Homo sapiens: one gene and its partners. The protein of the gene in region 4 purifies or fractionates together with the protein of the main gene of each other region. This does not show direct contact. Each region holds a gene or a part of one and is shown on either strand. Other genes may lie near its edges. The genes, in order: MZB1, HK3, DUSP22, FUNDC2, ANKRD13C, ANXA8 and ERGIC2.

Region 1 (3,935 bases), on a different chromosome or scaffold from region 4:
CACGCATTCGGTCACAGCCATCTTCTGTGCTGTTGTCGAGTGAGAGAATAGAAAAAGCATTTTGAAGGCCGGGCGCGGTGGCTCATGCCTGTAATCTCAGCACTTTGGGAAGCCAAGGCGAGCGGATCACCTGAGGTCAGGAGTTCAAGACCAGCCTGGCCAACATGGTGAAATCCCGTCTCTACTAAAAATACAAAAATTAGCCGGGCATGATGGTGGGTGCCTGTAATCCCAGCTACTCAGGAGGCTGAGGTGGGAGAATCGCCTGAACCTGGGAGGTGGAGGTTGCATCGAGCCAAGAACACTGCACTCCAGCCTGGGTGACAGAGTGAGACTGTCTCAAAAAAAAAAAATTGATTTTGAGAGTTTTTTTTTTTTTTTCACAAGGGACATCAGCAGAAACACCAATGTCTGCACTCCCAGCCCCACAAGCACCTTTTGCAGAGAAAAGAAGTGAGGTCACTGGGTTTTATTTGAGTCCAGAGGGGAAGGCGTTGACTCCCACCCAGGCCCGAGTGCCCTGAGGCTGGAGGAGGGAGGCAGGATGGCAGCACAGAGCAAGGGCTTCCTGCCCTCCTGGCTGCCTGCAGACGGGAGTGGAGACCGTCAGAGCAAGCCCCAGCTTCTTTCAGAGGAGGGTAGAGTCCAGGACTAGAGCTCTTCTCTTGTGGCTGACACCTTCTCTGAGCAGGCCCCCTGGGGTCCCCCACATAGCAATGCCTCCAGAGCCCCTCGGCCTTGTTGGTGGGCTTCATAGATCTGGTCTTCTCCAAACTCCCCCAAGTAGTGCAAACATGTCCTGGAGAGCCTAGGGGAGCCCAGCAGGAGCCTCAGATGCTGCCCAGCCCACAGTGGGGCAAACCAAGGCTCCAGGAGCTTCATCCTATCCCCAAGCCCCGGGCATCACCTGGTAGGCCAGGGGCCCCCTGTGACCATCACGCTGATGCTTGGCTCTGGCCCCTCGCTAAGTCCTGGGCCTGTGAGACGTTTCACTTGGTCCACTTCTCGAACTCCGTAGCTGGTGGCAGTGGAGAGGAGAGGAGTACAGTTTTGGCAGGAGCCCAGCCAGGGAGAGACCCATCTCCACAGCAAGCTGGACATGCTGGGCATTTGTGGAATTCAGAGAGGGAAAGCCCCTGGCCCAAGGTCACAAGGTGACCTTGTCCACTGGCCCTCTGCTCTCCCACTTGCTCTCAGCTCCAGAGCCCAGACTTCATCCCAGCCAGCCCCTCCCTTGGACCAGAGTCCTAGAGGAGTGTGTGTGTTGTGTGAGCGGCTGAGTGGGAATCTCCACCCACCAGGCCTGCCCTTGGAGGAGGGAGGTGGGGGGCAGGATTGGCAACTCACTCCTGCCAGTTCCGGGAGCAGCTCCGGTCCAGGACATCCGTGTAGACCAACTCGCTCAGCTCCCGCCGCCCCCCAGAGTTTGAGGTATGAAGTTTGGTCTCTGCCTTTGCCAGATTTTGCCACATCTGGAACAAGGAGGGACTGGGAGGCAGGGCCTCAGGACTGCTGCTCAGTTAGGGGGAGGTGGGGAGGATAGGAGCAGAGTCTCTGGGGAAAATAAAGTGGCAAGAGAGCCGTTTGAGCAGGAAGCACCTGTGAGGCTGTTGCATGGCCCCTCCCCCAGCCCCCAAAGCTCTCTGGGATGGGGATGGGGGATGGGAAAGAAATGCTGAAGTGGTAGGTGAGGCCTGGGCACTGGGGTCCCTCGTCCAGGGCACACCTGCCCAGTGGCAAGTGTCATTTTATTTTTATTTATTTATTTATTTAGAGAGAGTCTCACGCCGTTCGTCGCCCAGGCTGGAGTGCAGTGGTACGATCTCAGCTCACTGCAGCCTCCACCTCCCAGGTTCAAGTGATTCTTCTCCCTCAGCCTCCCAGGTAGCTGGGACTACAGGTATGTGCCACCACACCCGGCTAAAATTTTGTATTTTCAGTAGTGACGGGGTTTCACCATGTTGGCCAGGCTGGTCTCGAACTCCTGAGTTCAGGCGATCGGCCCCGCTCAGCCTCCCAAAGTGCTGGGATTACAGGCGTGAGCCACCGCGCCCGGCCGGCACGTGCCATTTTAAACCACAAGAGCAAGGTAAGAAAAACTGGAGCCCAATATTCAATCACACAAGTACTCCCAGGCCCCCACCTCACAGAGACACTGGCACGCAGGCATGCTCAGCAGGTGTGTGTGTGAAGCCAGACACACGCATACTCACGTGCAGGCGCTCACACGTGTGCACTTGCACCATGTACACATAGCCAAAGCCGCCCCGTCAGGGTTGGGGAGGGAGTCCGGACTCAAGGATGGGCCTGGAAAGGGAGAAGTCTAAGGACAAGTGAGTGATTCCCTGGGGTCTCAAAATACTGAGGAGGTCTCCCAGATTGTCTGCTGTTAGGCAGGCAGATGGGTAAACTGAGGCATGGAATATATGAAAGGCTGCATCTGTGGCTTGATGCCCAGTGGTAGGGATTGGGGATCAAAGGCCGGTGGTGGAATGTGAGGTGGGTGGAGGGGTCTGGCTTGAGAAGGGGTGTGAGCAGGGCAGGGTGACAGTGGTGAAGGACTCACCTGGTAAGCCACAGCTCTGCAGGCATCACAGCGCAGGTGAGCGGGCATGTGGGCTGAGTACATCTCCTCATCATCCAGTTGTGGGGCTGTGGCTGTGAGTGGCGCCCTGTCCCCGAGGCCCCCTGGGATGGCCCAGGCTCCCAGCAGCAGCAGCAGCAGTGGCAGTGACAGCCTCATGGCCCCAGGAGCCAGTTCAGCAAGTGTAGTCTGTGGTTGAGGTGCAGATGTGTGTGTGCTTGTGTGGTGTGGGGACCGCCACAGAACACCTGGCCTAGACCAATGGGGAACTGACACCTCACCCCTCCCATCCTCCTCCCACTCCCTCCTCCAGGGCCCCGAAGATGCCACGTGGGCATTGTCCTCTAGCTGGACCCTGGCTCCAGCCATCTCAGCTCCATTTCACAGATAGGGAGCACTGAGGCAAGGAGAGGGGCTGGGCCTAGGCAGGAACACATAGGGGCCGATACTGCCCACATCCTGTGATCTGGCCAAGTGGCAGGCACTGTGCTGAGTGCCTTGTGGGAAGAGTTGGTTGGCTGCCGTCATCTTTTTTTGTTTCATTGACCTTTCTGAGAAATGAGACTGTCATGTTTATTCTGCCTCTTCCGACACAAAGGCTCAGAGAGAGGTGACAAATCCAAGGCCACATAGCTAGAGGGGCCATGCTGAGAAACCCAAGCCTGATTGACCCCAAGGCTCCCTGGCCACTCAACCACCAGAAGGAATGAGGTGTGGCTGCCAGCCTCCTGGGAGGCAAGTTCAGGGAGACAGGGATGCTACAGTGTTTCCAAGACACACATGGTCTCCTTCCCTAGCCCTGAGGTCCCCTCCACCCAGGCCATACCCAGGCGTGGAAGGGCACTGTGGAGGGTGTTGAGAGGCTGTGGCAGGAAATCAGGCACCTCACACCAGTTATTTCAGCCATGATGGCTCCATGGTCAGTGATTTATTACACACCAGGATGAGGTAAAGACACCTGGGGTGGCCCCAGGGCCCTCCATGCCATCGGAGCTGGCATCTCCAGCTAGAAAATGGCCAGTTGTTCTGATTCGTAGCTCTCCTAGTCAGCTTCCAGTCCAGGGCAGAGGGCAGGGACTGCTAGGGACCTGGGCCCCCTGACAGGCCTGGAACAACGAAGGCATCCATCCCCATCCCTGCCACTGCTTCTCATGGAAACTGTCCTTCCCAAACTCATCACATCACACACCAGGCTGGCAAGGGCCAGCCATTTCCGGTTCAGAACTATATACAGACCCCCACGCACACCACCTCCCACCTCATGCAGACCCCCCTCATCTCCCTCAGAGGCTCCTGGAATCTCAGGGCAACTGAAGTGCAGGCTCTGGGCCCTGTCCCTTGCTGTGACTGG
Region 2 (3,500 bases), on a different chromosome or scaffold from region 4:
AAACAGATCCCTAAGAAGGCGAATCATCCTAACTGGGGTGCCAGATGTCCACTTACACGTTTGCCTTACAGCACATGCTTCCAGCAGCCATGCCTGCTAGGGGTGCCCATGCCCACTCTATCTCACCCTGACCAGGCCTATCTGGTGACAAGGGAAAGAGAAGCTGAAGCCAAGCTGCAGACCCTGTTTGCTCACAGGCTGCACATCCAGGAACTCAGGCAGTGGGCAGCAAAGTCAAAGAGCTGCAGGACAGGCGGGGTCTCAGCCTTGCCCCTCTGAGCCCCAGCTGCCCAAGTGTTAGAAATATGGAAACGGAGACTCCGAGAGGGCAAGTCATCTGCAGGGCCAAGCAGCTGTGAAGGGGCAGGGGAGAATTTGAACCCATATCTACCTGAATGCAGAGATGTTTCTATGTCAATGTGAAGCTTTATAAAACCTAGAAAGTTCCCTTGAAAAGAACTCAAGGCTGATGAAAGTTGCTGGAAAGAAACCCCAGATGATCCGGCTTGAGAAAACTTACAGCTGAGTCCTCGCACTCCCTTTTTCTGGCTCTGCAGTCCTGGGAAAGTCACACCTCTCTCTGAGCCTCAGTCACCTCTTCGTGCAAAACTGAGAAAATAATAGTACTTGGAAGTCCCCCAATGCCAGGGACTATGTCTTGCTCAAGGCTACATCTGAGGGCCACGAGGAGCACCAGCTGGAAGCAGGATTTGTTGATTGGATGGTTGTGGTGGCATAAGAATTAAAGGCTGTAATGTATGTGGAAGTGCCAAGTGCCATTGGGATGGGAGGGGCGTTTTAGTATTGCTTCATGAAAACAGTAGAGTCACGGAGAAGTCAATGGCTTGGGCAAATTGTTTTTCTTCCTTTTCCTCTTGGGCATATTGAGATGTTCGGGAGGAGAGACTAGAAGACAGCAGAACTGCAAGAAAGACAGAAGGACTTCCCTGGCAGATCCTGGTGAGGCACACACAAGCCAGGAGAAGCTATCGGAGCCACCCCTGACACCCCAGGAAGAGCAGGGAGAGACCTCAGACAGAAGAGCAAGGAGAAAGGCATTAGAGAGCATGTGAAGTCCAATGTGGTTTCAACACTGGCTCTTGTCACCAACTTGCTGTGTTGCTGGCCTGGGCCCATCACCTCACCTCTCTGAGCAAGCAACCCCTCTATCTAGCAGGAACAATAGTACCTACTTCTCAGAGATGCCATGAGGACTGAGACGACAGCAAACCTGAAGTGGAGGAACAGTGTCACACATAGGAGATGCTCAGTGGAACACGGATTCCCTGTCCTCAGAGCACAAAGCACACCCAGCCTGGAGAGCCTGACTCCATACCCTCTCTGATGACAAAGAGAAGCCTGGTGGAAGGGGTGGGGAAGGGCCTCTGAGATGGTACTGGGAACTGGCCACACGTGGTTAACTAACTTTTTTCAACCTAAGGTCATGGCAAGGGGAGCACAGGGTAAGGCCTGTGGTGCTGAGTTGGGGGTCCAGGACCATGGGAAATTTGGTGTCCCTGTGAAGTCCCCCAAAGCCGAAAGGGATTCTTTCAACCGCAGGTGTATGTGATGGAGCCAGCAGGGCAGATGTGGGCCTGCACAGGAGTGTCATCAGGGAGGGGCAAGAAGCGAGGGAGGAGATGACAGCAGGCCCTAGAGCCAGTCCTGGCTGGGCAGGCACTGTGGCCCAGCCACCGCTGTCACTCCTGAGGCACGGCTGTGGGTCAGGCACAGAAGAACTGTCTGCAGCAGGGTCTGGGGTACAGGTTGGACAAGGGGGAAGTGGGAGCATGAAATGCAGCGAGGGGTAATGCCTCCACAATCTGGGCAACAAGCCTAGTCAAGTGGATGTCAGAATATGCCAGAAAACTAAAGAAACTGCAGAGAATGACTCAAGTACCCTTTAGTGGGCACCTCCTCTATGCAAGTCCTTTTTTTTTTTTTTTTTTTGACAGAGTCTCGCTCTGTCACCCAGGCTGGAGTGCAGTGGTACGATCTTGGCTCACTGCAAGCTCTGCCTCCCGGGTTCACACCATTCTCCTGCCTCGGCCTCCCGAGTGGCTGGGACTACAGGCGCCTGCCACCATGCCCAGCTAATTTTTTGTATTTTTTAGTACAGACAGGGTTTCACCGTGTTAGCCAGGATGGTCTTGATCTCCTGACCTTGTGGTCCGCTCACCTCGGCCTCCCAAAGTGCTGGGATTACAGGCCTGAGCCACTGCGCCCGGACTTTTTTTTTTTTTTTTTTTGAGATGGAGTTTTGCTCTTGTTGCCCAGGCTGGAGTGCACTGCCACAATTTTGGCTCACTGCAACCTCTGCCTCCCGGGTTCGAGCGATTCTCCTGCCTCAGCCTCCCAAGTAGCTGGGATTACAGGCATGTGCCACCATGCCGGCTAATTTTGTATTTTTAGTAGAGACGGGGTTTCACCATGTTGACCAGACTGGTCTTGAACTCTTGACCTCAGGTGATCCACCTGCCTCGGCCTCCCAAAGTGCTGGGATTACAGGCGTGAGCCACCGCGCCCGGCCATAGGCAAGTCCTTTATCTCCATTAGCCTTCAGGGGGTGGGGAGGATTAGACTTTATTTTCCTCCATTTTACTGATGAGGAAACAGAGACTAAGAGATATGAAATGGCTTACACAAGAGTTTCCTGCTCAAGGGTGTGGTATGAGACAGCTTCTAAATCTTGGTCAAGATGACAGAAAAAGAAGAAACTCACTTCTGAGCAAGCCTCAGGCATGAGTTTGGCACTAAAATCGTCTGTGTGCCTGATTGTAGCGGCTACATTGAGGGAGACATGCAGGAGGAACTGGAGAGGCGGGAAAGGAAAGGTCTCAAGAACACAACTTTTGACCAGATAACCCTGAGAAAGTCCACTCTAGACTGTGTCACCCACTTGGGGCGGGAGCGGCACCTGTGTGGCAAGGTGGCAAAAATGACATGTTTGGAGCTGAAACACCTCAGCTCAAGCTCCTGTCATGTCTTAAACTCAAGTCATAACACTTCTCTATATCCCTCTTCATCACCTGTAAGATGATCAGCCCAACCTTGCAGTTGTTTGGAGCATGAAAGGAGATCGTTACCAGCTCAGATATGAAAAGCTCAGTGGAAAGGGGCTGCATGGGTGAGAGCCCAGGGCCCCATGGCAGCTTCAGTCACGCTGCTCTTGAAGGCCTTAGACAAGCATGAAACAGGAACCCAGTGCTGAACTTACCAGCTCTGAGCTGTCTGAGGGCCCGGGCAAGCCCTCCTCAGAGCAACTCAGGGTTTCTTCCCCCTGCCGCAACCCTGAAGACCCAATGGAGTCCATGAGCTTCCACAGTGGAAGGTGGCCACCTATGGGAGAAAAGGGACAACCTGGGTCAACCATTTACTCTATAGGCCCTAGGAGTCTGTAACCCAGACCAACTTCCTTCCTTCTGAAGGGGACCAGGAAGGAAGCTGGGAGCAGAATTCAGAACCTCCAACCATCAAAGATCCTGTAGCAGTCAACCAGA
Region 3 (3,500 bases), on a different chromosome or scaffold from region 4:
TAGCAAAAAAAAAAAAAAAATTATGAGCTAAACAATACAAGGAAGTAGGAGCTCGGAGATCTGGAGAAATTAATTGAGGTTTGTTCACCACCTATGATTCTCTGGTACTACAATGTTTAGTAGAATCATTTATTATTCTACATTCTCATCAATTTTAGCTTACTTTATACTAACTAAAATCTGGCAGCCCTAATGGCTAAAGAAAATAGATACATTTGAAATAAAAAACATTACCTACTCTTGCCTAATATAAATTTAAATGAAAACAGCCTGAACCAGGATTCTTTCTTTCAGAACAAGCCACCCCTCCCTTTCCAACACCCCACCCTAAAATAGAAAAACACATACACATCACAACCACACAGCATTATTTTCTAAAAGGAGGTAACTCGGGCTCTGTCAAGGCTAATAAACATAAATAGATTTTACCTCTAGCCAACAGCTCAAACCGTCCATTAGGGTAAATTTAAAGATGTTTTTGGAATCAGTGCACAAGCAGACACACCCTGTTTACCCCGAAAACCTAAAACACAACAGCTTCTACACCGAGAGTCTCCACATTAGAGCGGCCCTGGGAACCCTCCAGGACGATTCACCTTCTGTTTTCTGTGACCCCTGAATGCCAGTGGTAGCTATTTGAGTTTAAATGGGACAAAATCAGGAAATGAGCAGGCTGAAGTTTTTTGGATTTTAAAACCAGAGATAATTCTGAAAGGAATGAAAATGGGGTTTAAATGTCCTTAAGGTCCAGAGGGAAATGCAGCCTCAGCTTATTCCTAGGCATTTAGCCACGAAAGCCAAAGTGGCAATGCAGCAGGAGTGTGATCAGAAAAAGCACACACCCTCGCGCCACGCTACAGACAGCGTGTTAACATCAACACGGCCTGAACACAATGGGAATGCCGCCAGAGATCACAGGAGTACGTTCGCATTGGAGAGAACCTGGTTGCCTTCATTAACGTCGTAGGTACTCCCACGGAATACAAATGAGGACACCCACACACGCCCCACGGTGCTCTCTTACCTCCAACATAGGCCTGGCACTATCGTGGACAGACAGAATATGTGTCACCTTGTTCTTGCTCAATTGTTCCGCGTCTCTGGCATCTGTCAGAGAAGAAAGGGGATGGACATTTTGATATCTTTGCAAGTTAATTACTCCTAAAGTCTAGCCAGAAAAAAAAAAAAACCCACAAAATGACTTGCATATTTCTTTCCTGAAACTTCATAACTGACCATACATGTAGGAAACTTAGGGCTACTGCTTTCATATATTTTGCCTAACTTTATTTCTTTTGTTTTTTTTTGAGACGGAGTCTCACTCTGTCGCCCAGGCTGGAGTGCAGTGGCGCCATCTCGGCTCACTGCAAGCTCCGCCTCCCGGGTTCACACAATTCTCCTGCCTCAGCTTCCCGAGTAGCTGGGACTACAGGCGCCCGCCACCACGCCCGGCTAATTTTTTGTATTTTTAGGAGAGACGGGGTTTCACCGTGTTAGCCAGGATGGTCTCGATCTCCTGACCTCGTGAGCCGCCCGCCTCGGCCTCCCAAAGTGCTGGGATTACAGGCGTGAGCCACCGCGCCCGGCCTTGCCTAACTTTATTTCTGATTGTCTCATCTTTTGACCCAGAGTGAGAAAGAAAAAAACTTTCTATGAGGAAGAAGAGTCCCTTTAAATGATCAGGTGCAGAAAGGCCTCTGTAATATAACAGCAGTCTCCTCTCCCTCCCCCTTGAGCTAAATGGTTACCTTGAAGCCATCTGCTATGTGGTCCCTAGACTGATGCCAAGTAGACATAAAATGCCATACATCATAGTTCAATATCGTATAGCCAGGCACTAACCAATGTTATTTCTATAAACCAATGAGAATTCCTGCTGAACAATTTTTTGTAATTGCCACTCTCCTGATTCGTCTTTTTTTCTTTAAAAACTTGAGCCCCTATTTTACTCTCCGGGGCACTCCCCAAGGCAACCTGAAAGTGTGTTTCAGGCTACAGTCCTCAAGCTTGGCCCAAATAAACCCTCTGTATTAATTTTGCCTCAGCTTCTTCCTTTTAGGCAACAAAAGTGTTAATCTAGAAATTGAAATGCACTTAGATTAATAAACATTGTAATCATGATGGATTACATGGATTACATCATCAAGAAGGTAAATTTACGAGACCATTTTGTAGTTAGCATTTGTAAGAGATGACCTTAGGTCAGTCTTTCTGCATGAGACACATAATATTAGGGATATTTAAAATATTTTTTTAATTCAATGGCCTCTTAATGATGAGAATTCTTAAAAAGCTAAATACAAAACCATTAACTCTAGAAGACAAAGGAAACTGCCCATTACTTCTTTCCCCAGACGTCAAAAGCAGGGACAGTTCTGGATTCAGACAGGACTGTGGTTTACATCATCTATATTCACTTTAAAGCACAATTAAAAAATGAAACTTTTTCTGGAAATTCCAAACAGAACTGTCTATCAGCTATCAGTTGGCTATTAAATTATCTCCATATGAAACTAAGAAGATAACAAAATTATATTCCCTTCCAATGTCCCTACCTGCAAAAAGAAGACCAAATGGTGTGATCCCCTGAAGTGGAACCCTTCTACTAATCTACAAAACAGGGGGCCAGCAGGAAATGAGGAGGTCCACTTCCCTACACCCCCATCCCAGCCTGGCTGAACTTTCCTAAATGATACAGGAGAAATGGATCAGAAGGCAAATGTTTAGGCCGGGCATGGTGACTGACACCTGTAATCCCGGAACTTTGGGAGGCCGCGACGGGCCAATCACCTGAGGTCAGGAGTGTGAGACCAGCCTGGTCACCACGGCGAAACCACATCTCTACTAAAATTACAAAAATTAGCTGGGCGTGGTGGTGTGCACCTGTAAACCCCACTACTCAGGAGGCTGAGGTAGGAGAATCGCTTGAACCCAGGAGGCGGAGGTTGCAGTGAGCCGAGATCGCCCCACTGAACTCCAGCCTGGGCAACAGAGTGAGAGTCTATCTCAAGCAAAACAAAACAAAACCAAACAACAACAACAACAAAGAAAGGCAAATGTTTAATTATCATGGTTCTGGAGACTATTTCATGGCATGGGAAAATGCTCAGGGTATAATGTAAAGCAGGTACCAAACCATAAATATGACACAAACCCAACGTATAAAAATGCAGAGACAAACACATGGCAGGGAGGATGGCGGGACTGGTACAAAGACAGCCCCAGCTCAGAGACGGAATTACAAGGGTTTTCTTCCTTCTTTATAGTATGTGTGTGTGTGTGTGTGTGTGTGTGTGTGTGTGTGTGTTCTACATGAGTGGCTCTGAAGTTTAACACCCTAGGAACTGCCAAGAGGCTAGTTAGAAAGATCTACCCTGGGGCTGAGGAATCTCCATCTCTAACAAGCCTTGATGATGAAGCAGAAGTCAAGAAACATTGTTCTAAACATTCAGCAACGTCAGGAAAAAAAATTTAGGTGATATTAAAATACCACTTTTAAG
Region 4 (3,500 bases):
CAGCATGATAATGGCACCTAGATCAATTTGGCAGTACAAAGAGCTCAAAAACATATAGTCAACTGATTTTCAACATAGGTGTAAAGACAATTCAGTGGAGAAAAAGACAGTCTTTTTTTTACAAATGTGGGGACAACTAGATACCCATACGCAAAAAAAACTTGGATTCCTACCTTATACTATATACAAAAAGTAAATCAAAATGGATCACAGAACTAAATATAAAATCCGAACCTATATACAATCTAGAAAAAGCGAGAGAAAATCTTGGTGACCCTGGATTAGGCAAATATTCTCAGACATGACACCAAAAGCTGGAGCTACAAAAGAGCTGCACTTCAAGATTAAGAACTTCTGCTCTTTGAAAGGTACAGTTCAGATAATGAAAAGCTACAGAGAAGTAATATATTTGCAAATCACATATCTAAGACTTCTATCCAGAATATTTAAAGAACTCTCACGATTCAGCAGTGAAAGAAAACCAACAACCCAATAAAAATATGTGGAAAAAGATTTGAACAAATAAGTCATCAAAGATATATGAATGGCAAAAAATAAGCCCGTGAAAATGCTCAACATCATTAGTCATTAGAGAAACGCAAATTCAAACCACAATGAGATACAACTTCATACCCACTAAGATGTTCGTAATCAAAAAGATAATACCAAGTGTTAGTAAGGATGCAGAGGAACTGGAACCCTCACACATTGCTGGTGGAGATGTAAGATGGTACAGGCACTTTAAAAACTGGCAGGTACTTGTAAATTTAGAACATTCACTTACTACGTGACTCAGCCATACTATTCCTAGATATTTACCCAAAAGAAATGAAAGCATATGTTCATACAAAGACTTGTACACTTGTATACAAACTTGAAGTTTTATCTGTAACAGCTAAAAAGTGAAAAAAAAACTCAAATGTCCATCAAAGGTGGATGGAGAAACAGATTGTGGTACATCCATACAATGGAGTACTACTTAGCAATAAAAAGGAATGAACTGTTGATAAACAGAAAAGCACAGATTATCTCAAAATTATTATGGTGAAGGCTGATGCAGGAGAACTGCTTGAACCCAGGAGGCGGTGAGCCAAGATCGTGCCACTGCACTCCAGTCTGGGCAACAGAGCAAGACTCCGTCTCAAAACAAAAAAATATATTATTATGGTGAATAAGAGAAGCCAGACAAAAAAGAATATATACTATGTAATTCCACTTCTAAAAAGAATCTAGAAAACATAATCTATAGTAATAGAAAGCAGATCAGTGGCGGGAGGATGGCATGAAGGAAAGAGCGTGGAATTACAAAGAGGTACAAAGCAGCTTTTGAAGTGATAGGTATGTTCATTATCTTGACTGTGGTGATGGTTTTATGGGCATGTACATATGTAAAAATGTATCAAATTTTATACTTTAAATATGTGCAACTTATAATATACCTATTTATTAAATTTAAAAACTAAGAGATAAAGAAAATAGCCAAGATGTTCCTAAAGAACAAGATAGCAGACACACACATATGCATGCGCACACACACTCACATAAAGCAGCGGGGAAAGGGATAGCTTTCACAATAAATTAAGTTGGGACAAATGGGTATTCCACATGGGGAAGAAAAGAAGGAATCTACCACATACTGAGCACAATAACAATTCCAGGTGGATAATAAATCTAAATGTGAAAGGTCAAATAATAAAAGTTCTGAAACATGGGGTAGGCAAAGATTACTTAAATAAGCCACAAAAATCACTAACCATTAAGGTTAAGATTGATAAAATTGACTATATTAAAAATAAGATCTTCAGTTCATCAAAAGATACCATAAAACGAAAAGATAACCACAGAATGAGTGAAAATATCTATAATACACACAACTAACAAAGGACTGAGAATATTCAGAATATATAAAGAACTCTTACAGCTTAACAAGGGAAAGAATGACAACTTCAGAGGAAAAAAACTAGAGTGGAACTGAAAGAGGAGATCCAAATGGTCAACAAACATACGTAAAAGTCGATCAATGTCACTCCTACTCAGGGAAATGTAAATGAAGCCACCATGAAATACTACTACCTAACTACCAGACTGGTAAAATTTTTATAGTCTGGATTTAACTTGATTACCTCGCTAAGGAAAAATTAACTAATTTTTTAAAAATTTAATAGCCTGGCAAAATCAAGTGCCACCATGTAGAACAACAGGTTCATTTGGTCCTTGCTGGGACTGTAAACTGTTAAAAACAGTTTTGGAAGGTGGTTTGACATTATTTAGTGAAGCTGAAGATACCTATACCCATTACCTAGCAATTTCTAGGTACAGACCCTACAGAAATGTATGCACATATACACTGGGAAATCTAATACTCATATAAGCATAGTATTAGCCAAAAATGGAAACAACTCCAATATCAGTCATCAACTGGATATACTGTGGTATATTCACATAATGGAACTCAAAATACAAGTGAAAGTGAAGAAACTACAACTATACACAATGTAGTTGAATATATGAAACATCAGGTTGAGCGAAAAAAGCAAGACTCAAAAGAATACATACTGATTGCATTTACTTTAAGGTGGAAAGCAGGTAAACCACAGTATGTTATTTAGTGACATAACTGGTGTTAAAACTACAAAGAAAAGCAATGAAATAACTGCTTAATAACCTCTCGAGTTTCTAGGGCGCTAGCCACGTTTTTTTTAACCTTAGCAGTTGTTACATAGGTGTTCACTCCAAGTATTTGCTAAAATGTACACCTGTTAAATGTGCTGTTCTATATTTGCTATATGGTGCTATAAAATTTTTCAAATGTAAAGAGTCTATGAGATTAATGGATTCAATATTCACCTATGAAATTTGCTATTACTTTTTGAATTTATTACAAATGAAACCATAAGCTGTGTCACATTAAGTTATCATCTGACATAGCTAATAAGTAGTTAGCTCCTTATTCTACCAGTTACCAGCTATGTGGCCTTGGGCAAACTAACCTTTCTGAGCCTCAGTTTCTATAAAATGAGGATAGAAAATAACAGTACTAATTCCAGAGTTGTGAGAAGGAAATGAGATATCTATGTAAATACTTCAAACAGAACCTGGCATATAGGAAACAATCATTATGTGTAACCATTAAATGGTACTTTAAGATGATGTTTAGATACATGCTCCACATTAAGTGACCAATTTCACAGAAGCCAATGTGTTTTCACTGGTTAAAGGAGATGATGGTACCTATAACTGCAATACTAAATCATGCACAAAAGACAGTGGACATCTTTCACATCACTTACCATCCAGTGACACCTCCAATGAACAGCTGGGTTGCCACGCTATACTTTTCTGCTGAAGGTCCAGATTCCTGCCCGAACAGCTTACGCCACCATGGCTGCTTCTTAGCAAATTCCGCAAGGTCCAGTGACTCAAAATTTCCCTCAAAGTTTCCTACAAGAAGTAATACGTTAAATAAGAAAATATTTACTTTTATACCTAACTAGATTGAG
Region 5 (4,286 bases), on a different chromosome or scaffold from region 4:
TGTACACATTGCAGGGGGGAAAGCAATTATATTTACCCCAGGTATGTGAACCACCGGTTACATTAATCAGAAACATCAATGATATAAGGTCAGCTAAACACAATAAAAACCTTCCTTTAAAAAAGTGAATTTCAAGGCCAGGCGCGGTGGCTCAGGCCTGTAATCCCAGCACTCTGGGAGGCCGAGGCGGGCAGATCACGAGGTCAGGAGATGGAGACCATCCCGGCTCACACAGTGAAACCCCGTCTCTACTAAAATTACAAAAAAATTAGCCTGGCGCGGTGGTGGGCGCCTGTACTACCAGCTACTCAGGAGGCTGAGGCAGGAGAATGGCGTGAACCCGGGAGGCGGAGCTTGCAGTGAGCGGAGATTGCACCACTGCACTCCAGCCTGGGCGACAGAGCAAGACTCCGTCTCAAAAAAAAAAAAAAAAAAAAAAAAGTTAATTTCAGTGGGCTAAGGACAAGAGTTTAAGAGTATACAGGATTCTAATTACTTTGAACAGAATTTGAACTTAAACAAATGTACTCCTAAATGTTGGGTTGAAGAAGACATGGAAGCCCAACAATCCTGTAATTCAATAGCTTCAGTGATATTCATCCATCTCTTCTTTCAAAGGGAGTTAACTCTCAAACCTTTTATCTGTTTCAGGGATATTTCAAGGTAATGTAACTATGGCTACTATGTAAACCAAATTTGAAAAACTTCCTCATAATAGACTAATAAACTGAAGCTACAACCCATCTCCCACTAACAACTGTTTTCCAAAGGGCTAGCATAGAATTACCATCATCAACAAACAACATTATCCTTGTACTATAATAGTAAAATGATTAAGTAATTTAAATGTAGGAAAGAAAAACTGGCTGCAACTTTAACATACTTTTTTGGGGATTTATGATAAATGATAGGTGGTGATTTTATTACAATTACAACATTGTAAATTCTGAAAACAAATGCAGTTGTTAGATAATTATACAGCCAAGAGAAATCTTACTCGTTTTTTTTATCTGAATTTTTGTCCTAAAAAGCCTACGATCCAATGGAATTAAGTGAGCTTATTTCACAGGCAAATATTTCATTGATACGTATATCATTTTGAGCACAAAGTTGGTTCAGTGTGTTCTAACTGAATGTATACAATTTTCATATTAATAGCAGAGCGATCAACAATATTTGCCAACTACCCAGTTTAAAACGGCTATTAAATGTTAAAATGTCAGTGTTCACATTAGTCTTCAATAATAAATTTACTGTTGCTTAAAAGTCAACTCAGTCACATTATTTTTTAGAATTAAACAAAAAATTCAGCTGACAAGGCAAAAAGAAATGGTCAATATTGACTAAGATAAAATTACCATAAAAATCATAATACTATTTTTAGTCACAGTCATCAAGATGAGACATTACTATTAGCAATTATCTACTTAAAACAAGCAAAAAATCAAATCTCTACTCAAACAAAAATCGGCTGTTGAGAAGTCACTTTAACTGTTCTACGTATCAAATACCAACAAATTTCTACTGTGTGGCTTTCAGAAATCTAACATTCTAAGTTTACTGAAAGCAGACAAAAAAGAAACAACCTGGTGGCAGGCAAAATCACAACCAGTTGCAGTCAAGATGGGATCTGTATGTGAGCAATGAAGGGAGGAGGGCAATTTATGCGTTCAAAATTTAAAATGCCAAGGTAGGGGGAAGAGAGAGAAATAAAGATATATAGCTCCATAAACAAAGGGAGAAAACCATGTTGGGTGGGAGGCAACCTAAAATTTCTGACAGTCCAGAATCAGCAAATCGAAGGCCTGTCTCAAACAAAACAGCTTCTCACGACAAACTTTGAAGTGGGCAAGGAGGATACATTCCTTTGCACCCACAAGAACCAACCCCTTGACCACTGGCACGCTATTACTGAGTCGATCATGATTTACCGAACGGCCCGGATGATGGGCAAAAAGAAGAGTCTGCTGGAGGGGGCCTAGGATTCCAGAAGCCTGGGGAGGCACACCCTAGGCTCGGGGAAGGAGAGAGGTGGAGAGGGGCTAGCACTCCTCACCGTGATTATCTTTCTGCCCGATATTGTGCGTGCGGATGAGAGAGGAGAGTCTCCTCACATCCCCCTTGAAGACGCACTCGTGCACCGGGTAGTGTGCGGGGCAACTGCCTCCATCCGCGACGACAGCAACGGGGTTGGTGCCGGCCAGAAGGGCCGGGGACTGGGAGTTGGCAGTCACGGAGGAATTGTGCAGCGGCAGAGCCGGGGCGCCGGGGGGATTGGAGGAGGCCGGAGCTGCCTTCAGCTGTAGCCGGTGGTGATGGTTACTGAAGATCTTATGACAAGCTTTGCCGCCCTTGCCAATCCTGCTTCTGGTAAAGGTACCGCCGAGGGCAGCCGCCGCTTCCTCATCCCCGGGCTCCAGCAGGTCCCCTTCTTCTTTGCTGGGCTTGTGGTCCCTCCGCAGTGAGCGGATCTTCTCCCCGGTCATCGCCGCCGCCAGGGGCAAGGGGGGGAATCGGGAGGCTCACCGCTGGCGACGGAGCTGGCGCTGCGGCGGCACAAGGCGATTAGAGCGGTGGCCAAGAGCCTCCAGCGCAGCATGAACTCCCACTGAGCCCCCGAGCCTGGGACAAACGCATCTCCCGGGGAAGAGCCGGCTCTCGCCTAGGCACGAAGGGACGCGCGCTCGCTGGGGGAAGCTAGAACTCAGGTGCCCACGACACCAGGATCTCAGTCTCGCCGTCGCAGCCGCCGTCGCTGCCTTACACCGAAAAACAGGGCACGGCCATCTTCCTCTTGCTCCTCTCGCGAGAGCTCCCCCAGGAGTGAAGAGAGAGAAAACACCGCGATAAGTGAGCCACCCGCTCCCTCCCTCGCACCTTCTATTCCCAGAATCACTAGGCGCCGGCGCCTCCGAGGCAGTGTGTTTCCGCCCAGAGCTGGAGTCTCCCAGCTGCCAGCCGACCCCGAACCCGCACTCCCGCCAACCGCGCTTTTTGTGGGCGGTCGGAAACCACAGCCTCCGTTGGATATGTTCGGTGCATGTTATAAACAACCACTTAAACCCTCCGGATCTGAGCCTCCCGCAGAGGAATGCAGAATGACGCCACGGCACGCAGGATGTGATGTCACCGAGATGCAGAGGATACTCAGTCAACCAACATTTACTGAGCATCTACTTCGTGCCGTATGTACGAAGCTAGCAAATATGTACAGCACCAGTACTGATTGCAGGGAGCACTGTAGAAGAGGAATGAAGGCCAAACAATTAAAAGCGGAGGCGGGGAGGTGGGTTGCACACAAAAAAGGGAGGGACGAATTTTAGTGTTGAGTTGTCAGGAAAGTCATAGAAGAGTTTAGGTGCTGACTTTGGAAAATGATGGGCTGTCCAGCAATCGGAAAGAGGGGAGGCCACTCAAATATTTATTAGATGAATGAATTTCGGGCAGATGTCAGAGTTAACATATATGAGGGTGGGGACACTCAAGGAGGGCAAAGAATCGTGTAACTGAAATATAATTGTATTAGTTCATGGCCAACCTCAACCTAGTGTCAAACTCTGAAGAAACGTAAATCTGCCAACCATAAAACTTTAACAAAGTAACTAAAGCTGGCCACTGAGGACGTAAGGAGGGGGCTTAGCAAAACATCCTAAAGATCTTCACCCATTTAACTCTCCAAAGTCCCCCTATGTTCTGAGAGCAAATACTTCAGATCTCTCTCTCTTTTTTTTGTTTTTTTGTTTTTTTGACAGAGTCTCTGTAGTCCAGGCTAGAGTGCAGTGGTGCAATCTCGGCTCACTGCGACCTCCACCTCCCAGGTCCAAGCGATTCTCCTGCCTCAGCCTCCAGAGTAGCTGGGATTATAGGCCTGCGCCACCACACCAAGCTAATTGTTGTATTTTTAGTAGAGACGGGGTTTCACCGTGTTGGCCAGGCTGGTCTTGAACCCCTGACCTCAGTGATCCGCCAGCCTCAGCCTCCCAAAGTGCTGGGATTACAGGCATGAGCCACTGCGCCCGGCCAGATCTCTTCTTTCTTAAAGTTTATACTACTGCTAACTCATCTCCGCAAACAAACAACTCGATGGGCCTCTCTTAATCCTCCCCAGTCACTCAACTTTTCACCTCCAATTTTCTTCTCAGTCTGTTCAGATAAATCTGTTTCTTCCTCTTCTTTCTTTTTCGGTGGAGTGGAGAGTTCCGTTTATGTTAAAACATTACCCAATCAACAGTTCAAAGCATCCTCTTGAGACAGCAGTAGAGACTGAAAAAATACATGCAATAATG
Region 6 (4,157 bases), on a different chromosome or scaffold from region 4:
CTTTACAGAAAGGGAGCTGGACTCCCTTACACAGCTAGTAAGTGATGCTGTTGGGACTCCCCAGCCTGACTCAGAAGCTGAGCTCTATCTACCTCCCCTGCCCTACTGATGACTCCACCTTTCCCAGACAATGAGTGTTCCTGGAACGTTCCACTGAAGGAAGCTTCACCCACAGGAACGCAGGTCATCTGGGAATGTGGGAGGCATCTCAGCTCTCAGTGCCTGCCGGCTTCCCTCTGCCCCAGCACTCGGGGGCTGTGGTGCACCAGCGAGTGGCCAGGCTGTGTAACCGCATCCCTGAGGAGCATGCAGTCCCGCAGGGGTGCGGTAGGTCTCAGGTGCAGCATTTGTAAGCAGCTCCCTGGCTGGTTCTGATTTTGCTGCATTGAGAAGCCTCTGTCTCACTTCCCACTCTAAGGTTTTAGAAAATAAGTGTTCTGGGAATCGGAGCCCTGGCTATCAGTGTGGAGTCCTGGAGCTCCAGACCTCCTGCTGAGAAGGAAGGGTCAGCCTCAGGCTCCTGCAGGGTCTTGCCCAGGGCCGTGCTAGTCCAGACAGGCACATTTTCACTGAAAAGGTGACTCAGACCAGCCTGTGACTACATCTATTAATATAACTTGTTCTGTGACAGGCACAGGGGAGCTGCCACGCCTTGGCCTTCCCCTGCTACGTGGCTGCCCAGAGGCCTGGGAGATGGGTTTGTCTCTATGAGAGACACAGAGGAAAAGGCAACACCAAAAAGAGAGGTGCAGATGGACCCTGCCTGCAGACAGATCTCTCTCCAGTGGCTCCCTCATCTCCTCCCATCGCGTTCCTGGCCCAGCTTTGTGCCTAGAGGACACTGGGTCTTCGCTAGCAGCTCAGCTGTTGCAGGTGGGGTCTACCTGTGAACTTGCTACCCCTAGCCAGCTCTCACATGGGGTATGGACGACCAGGGTATGGTTTTGGCCCTGGAGTCAGGCTGTTCAGATTCTCACCTAGACTCTCACACTTACTAGTGAGTTCGGGCACCTGCCTAGCCTACTTGTGCCTCAGTTTCCTCATCTGTGGATAAGGATACTGGTGTCTACTTCATAGACTCCTTGTGAGGTTCAAGGGAGATATTGAATGTGAGGTGCTTAGAGAAGGGTCCGGCCACAGAGTAGGGACTCAGTGAGTGTCACAGTGATCCTGTCAATTTGGCAGGTCCCTACATGGACAGCCCTTTGTCCTGCTGCACTGGGTGCAAGGCCCAGTGCCAGACTGCCTTGGCCAGCAACTGACTTTGGAAACCACCCAGCACTGGGCTCTCCCTGCCATGTCCACCTCCTCAAAGGCAGGTTCCCAGCAGTCTGGTTGAAGCTGCAGGCCTCCATGGCCCCTTGTCCTGGAAGAAGGCTGCTTCCCTGGGGGCCAGGACAGCTGCCCCACCTCAGCCTGGCTTCCTCTTTGTCCCACCTGTCCAGAACCTAGCATGTCTGACCCTGAGGACACTTGCTTGGGTTGCGACATCTATGATCCAGAGACTCCCTGAAGCTGGACAAGCCTGGGTATCCCACAAAAGCTCACAGAGAACCTGGGGCTGGGCAGAGAGACCCAACTGCTCTCTGACTGGAGCCTGCTGGCCATTGGACCCTAGCAAGTCACTCAGTGTCTCTGAGCCTTCATTTCATCATCTGCAAAACAGAAAGTGCAGCCCTGACATCCTGAGGCTGCCTGGGAGGAAAGGAAAAGGGTGTGCAGAGCCGGCAGCCGGGAGATGTCACCTCTGTCCCCTTCTGGATATTCAACTCCTTAGCACAGCGATGGCCTCAGGCTCAACCATAGATGGAAAGCTCCCGAGAACCCATCAGTTCTGCTGGGGATGGGCTGCCCTGAGCCCCGGGTTCCTCCAGGCTCTAGCAGGCCAGGTCCTCCTGCTTCCCCTCTTCCCTCTCCAGTCTTGACAAATGAACATCATTGATCCCTGAGGTGAAGGCATTGATGGGTCCCCAACAGCAGGTTCAGGTTACTCTCATGCTCAAAGCCCTTCAGTGCCTTCCCACTTCTCTTAAGGTAAAGCCTAACTCCTCAGCCTGCCAGGCAAGGCCTTTCAGGACCTGGCCCTGCCTGCTTCCCCAGGTCCATCTCCTCCGGTACCAGGACCCTTGAGCTGTGCTGAGCAGCTTCCCTCGAAGCCAAGCTCCCTGCCCTCTGACCCTCTGCACACAGTTCCCTCTGCCAGGAGCAGTATGCCTGATTCTCCCCAAATGCACACGTGTGTGCACCCCATACACATTTACACACAAGGCTCAACCATGATACCCCCTCCTTTGAGTGGCCCCACCCCTGCAAGGGTCCCTCCCCTGGACTCTTCTCAAACCTCAGCTTCCCCCTTGCATTTCTAGATTTCTTCATCAGCCTGTCTCCCGGCCCAGGTCCCATCCCTGCCGTGGGCACTCTAGGCCTGGGACTGTTTCTTCTCGGCCCCTTCCCACCCTCCATGCTTGGCCCAGGAGGCAGCCAAATGTAGACTGAGCCACTCCCAGCCAAGGGCGACTTTACATTTCTCAGGACTCCCTGGTGACCAGCACCCAACACCATGCAGGAACCCAAATCTCCTGCCAGCTCCCACTTACCCAGGATTTCCACCAGGCCATCTCTTTCACCTCGGGGGCACCTTTCCCAGGGAGATGAAGAGACACAGGTTGGCCTCTGCTGGGACTCCACACGTCTGGCTCCTGCAGCTGAGGAGTGAGCAGGCCGCTCACTTGGGTGTGGGGGTGCAAGCCCGCCCAGGGCAGCGCCACACCTGCCTGCCGTCCCCTCGCCCCCGGGCTCTGCCTGGCTTTGGGCATCTCCTGTGGCTCCCAGGCCCCACCCAGACACTGCCCAGGCCTGCTCTGGGGAATTACACAACTCACTGGCAGATATTTGGGCTGTGGCTGTTACGCATACTGGAAATTCTTAGCTCCAGCCTGCGAAAGCCCCACTCAGTAAACACAGCTCCATGTTGATTAGGCTGGTCTCAAACTCCCGACCTCAGGTGATCTGCCCACCTTGGCCTACCAAAGTGCTGGGATTACAGGCATGAGCCACCGCACCCAGCCCATTTTCATCACTCCTAATAGCCATGGAGTATGCCATTTAATCAACTGCATATGCAATATTATTTTTTTTTTCCGGGGGCAAGGGGCTCATATTCACCACAGATGGGAGGCCAGTTGGTGAGAAGGTGGCAGGCGGCACAGCCACCTTATACAGCATGCCATACTGGTCCACTGTCAGACCGGTGATGGCCTCAGCTCCATCACCCCCCAGGCTGACTCTGGCTCCTGCCTGGCTCTGCCCGGCCACCACAACCCCTCGGGACCATTCAGAGGCATCACTGGAGGATGTGTGGTTAGTGGAGCAGCTGGTCATGGGGAGGTCTCGTTTCTTTGGTGGAAGGCATTCCTGGTTCCTCTCATGAACAGGTTTCATATTGCTTTGTGGTGTTCCTGGAGCCTGGAAGGAGTTGGCTTGCTCCCTGGGGCATCAGGAGGGGCTTCTCTGTAGCTTCTCTGAACCCCTCTCTGCTTCTGGCTGGGGCACCTACATCTGAGCTTCCAGTGGTGCTTCTGAGCAGCTGTAGTAAGCGTCCTCCCGGCTGGCTCGGGAGCCAGCCCATTTCACCACGCTTCCCGGGATCCACCCGCTCATCCTGGAGCCGCTGCAAACCTGGCCGCCGCCATCCCCAGCCCCGGAGCTGCCCCATACCCCTGTATATGCAATATTTGTTAACCATTCCCTTTTGGTGCCCATCTAGGTACAGGTATCATTTTTGGAGCTAAAGTATCTATAATACACTGGAAGTAACAGATGTCACCTCCATATTGTACGCCAAACCTAATAAGCAGAGCAAAACTTTTCATCCAAGCGATTTGGTTAACATTTTAGGATGTTTCTAATCTCTCAGTAATACAAATATGCTACAATAGATCTGTGTGTTTATCCTTTGGGCACCTGTGTGTGCCTGTGCATACCTGGAGAATAAAGTCCTGTGAGAGGAACTGCCATCCAAAGAGGGTGTTTCAGTCTGTACTGCCACCAACAATGTGCTTGTGCTTCTGAGCTTGCGTTTGGGTCAGGAGAATTTGAAAGTCATCAGGAACCAAACCAGGATATAAGGTTCAGCTGTAGCTGGAAAGTGGCAAGCG
Region 7 (3,500 bases), on a different chromosome or scaffold from region 4:
CAGAATGGCATGTGCTCCTCAGTAACTGTCACCATAAGAGAACTGAGATCATATTTCATAAATATCCCAGAGACTCCATGGCTGCCTGCAGCATGGTTAATGATACGTTCCTAAAAGGGAGGCAAAAGGAAGGGGAGAAATAGGAGGAAGAGAGAAACAGAATTCATGTCATCTGGTTACTTACATACATTCAATATTAAGCCCTGAAGCCCTACTGTAAAAGAAGGACATCCACATTTCCTTATGAACTGTCCTACTAGACTAAGCTCTTCAGAGACAAATTATTTTGTATTCTTTGTGTGGTTAGCTTTTGAAACTATCAAAAGAGCAGAATCATTCTTTTTTTCTCAAAAAGGTCACCTTAGATACAAGTTTTCTACTGAGCTCAAGAGCTTACAAATATGTATGGCATGTTCCTCATGCTATAACTAAACTGCAAGCTTTAGGAATACAAATAATGAGGTTAACTACTACCAAGGGAAATTAAAACAGTTTTACGTAGGGCATTACAAAACTCTTTCCCTATTACTAGCACAATACAGCCTTATAAGCCAACTGATCAAGTTTCCAATAAAGTGACTACATCTTAAAGCTCTAAAATGCTCAATATCATGCTGAGTTATAAATATATTGTCACTACCTATAAGGGTAGAAACTGTTTTAGGGATCAGGGCATATACATAATGAAAGACTAATAATGATTCACTTTGGGTTCCAGGACTAATGAATGTCAGCCCTCTCCCTCCCACCCCCTATCCTGCATTTTACCAACCCCAGTTACTCCATTCTTTTTTAAGTTAAAAAACTATTTTAGTCACCCTATCAGTATAAACACATCCTTCAACAGTCAAATGCCCTGGGATTCTATTACATATGTATTTTTGGCTTTGTTATTTTAAAAATATACCCTGGAGATATTTTCCTATCAGTATATAGAAATCCTTCTCATTTGATTTTTAACAATTGCATCTTCCTCCAGTGTGTGTAGATGTACCATCTGGGTTGTTTCTAATCTTCTACTATTACAGATAACAATGCAACGAATAGCCTGAAACACACATTTTTATATTTTTGCCCACCGTATCTTTGGAATAGCTTTCTCGAAGTGCAATTGCTGAGTCAAAGGATAAATGCATAGGTCCTTTTGCAGATACTGCTAAACTACCTTCCTCAAAGATTATGCCACTTTGCATCCCCATAGCACTGCATGTTTGCCTATTTTCCCCAAAGTCTTCTCAACTGTATGTATTGCCTTGAGGTGTTTGCCAATCTTACAGGTGAGAAATGGAATCTCCCTACTCCTTAAAGAAATGTTGAAAAGCACAATATGTTCTGGTATAAACTTTACCTAGTTTCTTTGTGTGAGTGTATATACACACATACCTATACATATATATGCAGTTATATGAACTTGTACTTTCTCCCAAGCCAAGTGAAAAGCTATAGACACATGACACTTCACCCCTAAAAACTCCAATACCTAATCTCATAAGAACAAAAAAAAAAATTCCACAATTATTGAGGGCATGGTCATCATGAGTTATAAGGCTAGTAAAAGAAAACACTATATAAAGGAAAGCAAAATTTTTAAAGCACTTAAATTTTGCCTTAGAATTCTTCTGGATACAAGTGTTTGAATTCACCATTCAAACACAAAAATAAGAAAACATGACCCCAAAGTAGATAAGAAATCTATTAAACTGTCCAATTCCAAAACTTTGCTCATCACTGTCAGTATTTACTTATATGGCCATACCACCCTGAGGTAGTGGAATGTTCTTCATCACAATCAGATGAATACAAAGCATTAATTTAGGAAGGCAAACCCTCTAAATTTGCTATCTAATCCATGATAACCATGTATGCCCAGAGAAGGTAGTACATTTATTAATAAATAAGTAACAGAATTCAAAGAATCTGCTGCCAGATCAAGAACTGCTTATATCAATTTATGAGAAAACATTTATAAAATTAAGACATTAAGAATAAAATAATTAAGGCCATCACAATTTAACAATTTTAAGTCTTAATGCAATAGAAAACCTTTCAGATTTTTTAAATATCTACTTTTATTGCTTTAGAATATACTAATATTCATTTCTGACATATTTCTGATTTAAAATAAAATGTTAATTCATTTCAAAACTTCCACAGATTTTTAAATGAGGGAAGACACCAAGTAAAACACCACCTTATTTTGTAGCCAGGAAACTTTAAAATGCTTTTTTAAAAAAATCACCAAATTATTTTACCGGTTGGATTCAACTTACCCTTTCTGTCACAGAAAACTGATGGGTGTCTGCTGATATTTTATATGTATGTAGTTTTGTTGGCACAACTGTAATAAAATATTGGAACATCTGGTTGTCTAGAATACAAAAAAAACTTTTTATCAATTCAGTAGCAACAAAACTACTGCCAAATATATTCTTCTATTAAACACATTTAACCTGAAATTTAGCTGGATGTGGTGGCTCACACCTGTAATCTCAGCACTTTGGGAGGCTGACGAAGGAGGACTGCTTGAGTGTGGGAGTTCAAGAACAGTCTCGAACTTGAGTCTGGGAGTTCGCGACCAGTCTGGTCAAGAGAGCCAGACCCTGTCTCTACAAAAAATTTAAAAATTAACTGGGCATGGTGGTATGCACCTGTGGGTCCCAGCTGTTCAGGAGGCTGAGGCAGGAGGATCATATGAGCCCAGGAAGTCAAGGCTGCAGTGAGCCATGATTGTGCTACTGCACTCCAGCCTGGGCAACAGAGCAAGAACCTGTCTCAAACAAATAAAAAATAAAAACATTTAATCTGAAATGTAATGTTACATACAACTTAATGTCTAACAAAAAAAATTTTTAAAAGAACCAATGAAAGCAACATATTTATACTCGGTAAAACAAGTTCTCAGCAAGCATAAGATGGGCAACACAGATGTTTAAAAAAATGAATTGGTGACTTAGTTAAATATTCCTTAAAATCGTTAACATCCTTTTATCAATTATGGAAAAGTAGCATTTTTCTTTTTCCTTTTTTTTTTTTTGAGATAGGGTCTCACTCCATCGCCCAGGCTGGAGTGCAGTGGCGCAATCACGGCTCACTGCAGCCTTGACTTCCTGGGCTCCAGCAATCCTCCCGCCTCAGCCTCCTGCGTAGCTGGGACTACAATGCACGCCACCAAGCCCAACTAAATTTTTTTCATTTTTAGTAGAGACAGGGTTTTGCCATGTCGCCCAGGCTGGTCTCAAACTCCTGGGCTCAAGTGATCCTCCTGCCTCAGTCTCCCAAAGCGCTGGGATTATAGGTGTGAGCCACTGCACCCAGCCAGCATTTCTTTATAGTACAGAAACTAAGAATAAAATAAAATTATAAGAGAATAACCACCACAAGACATATTTTCAGTTTCTACTAATATCTTAAGATATACACTAAACCAAAATCAAATTAGCTAGCCTTTGAATAAATACAAGGAACTGATATTACAGTAGGAAGAAAACTAAAGAAACTAC

Evidence for each region.
Region 1: the proteins of FUNDC2 (region 4) and MZB1 purify together in Homo sapiens (affinity purification with mass spectrometry; one large-scale study listed by BioGRID and IntAct). This does not show direct contact.
Region 2: the proteins of FUNDC2 (region 4) and HK3 purify together in Homo sapiens (affinity purification with mass spectrometry; one large-scale study listed by BioGRID and IntAct). This does not show direct contact.
Region 3: the proteins of FUNDC2 (region 4) and DUSP22 purify together in Homo sapiens (co-immunoprecipitation; one large-scale study listed by IntAct). This does not show direct contact.
Region 5: the proteins of FUNDC2 (region 4) and ANKRD13C purify together in Homo sapiens (affinity purification with mass spectrometry; one large-scale study listed by BioGRID and IntAct). This does not show direct contact.
Region 6: the proteins of FUNDC2 (region 4) and ANXA8 purify together in Homo sapiens (affinity purification with mass spectrometry; one large-scale study listed by BioGRID and IntAct). This does not show direct contact.
Region 7: the proteins of FUNDC2 (region 4) and ERGIC2 purify together in Homo sapiens (affinity purification with mass spectrometry; one large-scale study listed by BioGRID and IntAct). This does not show direct contact.

What each region holds. Positions count from the first base shown.
Region 1 is NC_000005.10:139,387,114-139,391,048, forward strand, and holds MZB1 (marginal zone B- and B1-cell-specific protein precursor), read right to left. Parts: upstream 2,801-3,935; 5' UTR 2,744-2,800; coding exon 2,567-2,743; intron 2,308-2,566; exon of another isoform or gene 2,214-2,307; intron 1,555-2,213; exon of another isoform or gene 1,473-1,554; coding exon 1,348-1,472; intron 1,019-1,347; coding exon 908-1,018; intron 809-907; coding exon 652-808; 3' UTR 354-651; downstream 1-353. UniProt on the Homo sapiens protein: Associates with immunoglobulin M (IgM) heavy and light chains and promotes IgM assembly and secretion. May exert its effect by acting as a molecular chaperone or as an oxidoreductase as it displays a low level of oxidoreductase activity.
Region 2 is NC_000005.10:176,892,847-176,896,346, forward strand, and holds part of HK3 (hexokinase-3), read right to left. Parts: intron 3,340-3,500; 5' UTR 3,314-3,339; coding exon 3,218-3,313; intron 1-3,217. UniProt on the Homo sapiens protein: Catalyzes the phosphorylation of hexose, such as D-glucose and D-fructose, to hexose 6-phosphate (D-glucose 6-phosphate and D-fructose 6-phosphate, respectively).
Region 3 is NC_000006.12:309,487-312,986, reverse strand, and holds part of DUSP22 (dual specificity protein phosphatase 22), read right to left. Parts: intron 1,108-3,500; coding exon 1,025-1,107; intron 1-1,024. UniProt on the Homo sapiens protein: Dual specificity phosphatase; can dephosphorylate both phosphotyrosine and phosphoserine or phosphothreonine residues. Activates the JNK signaling pathway.
Region 4 is NC_000023.11:155,033,344-155,036,843, reverse strand, and holds part of FUNDC2 (FUN14 domain-containing protein 2), read right to left. Parts: intron 3,442-3,500; coding exon 3,291-3,441; intron 1-3,290. UniProt on the Homo sapiens protein: Binds directly and specifically 1,2-Diacyl-sn-glycero-3-phospho-(1'-myo-inositol-3',4',5'-bisphosphate) (PIP3) leading to the recruitment of PIP3 to mitochondria and may play a role in the regulation of the platelet activation via AKT/GSK3B/cGMP signaling pathways.
Region 5 is NC_000001.11:70,351,923-70,356,208, forward strand, and holds the start of ANKRD13C (ankyrin repeat domain-containing protein 13C), read right to left. Parts: upstream 2,801-4,286; 5' UTR 2,487-2,800; coding exon 2,057-2,486; intron 1-2,056. UniProt on the Homo sapiens protein: Acts as a molecular chaperone for G protein-coupled receptors, regulating their biogenesis and exit from the ER.
Region 6 is NC_000010.11:47,481,316-47,485,472, forward strand, and holds the start of ANXA8 (annexin A8), read right to left. Parts: upstream 2,801-4,157; 5' UTR 2,706-2,800; coding exon of another isoform or gene 2,619-2,705; coding exon 2,598-2,618; intron 1-2,597. UniProt on the Homo sapiens protein: This protein is an anticoagulant protein that acts as an indirect inhibitor of the thromboplastin-specific complex, which is involved in the blood coagulation cascade.
Region 7 is NC_000012.12:29,343,173-29,346,672, forward strand, and holds part of ERGIC2 (endoplasmic reticulum-Golgi intermediate compartment protein 2), read right to left. Parts: intron 2,369-3,500; coding exon 2,271-2,368; intron 111-2,270; coding exon 1-110. UniProt on the Homo sapiens protein: Possible role in transport between endoplasmic reticulum and Golgi.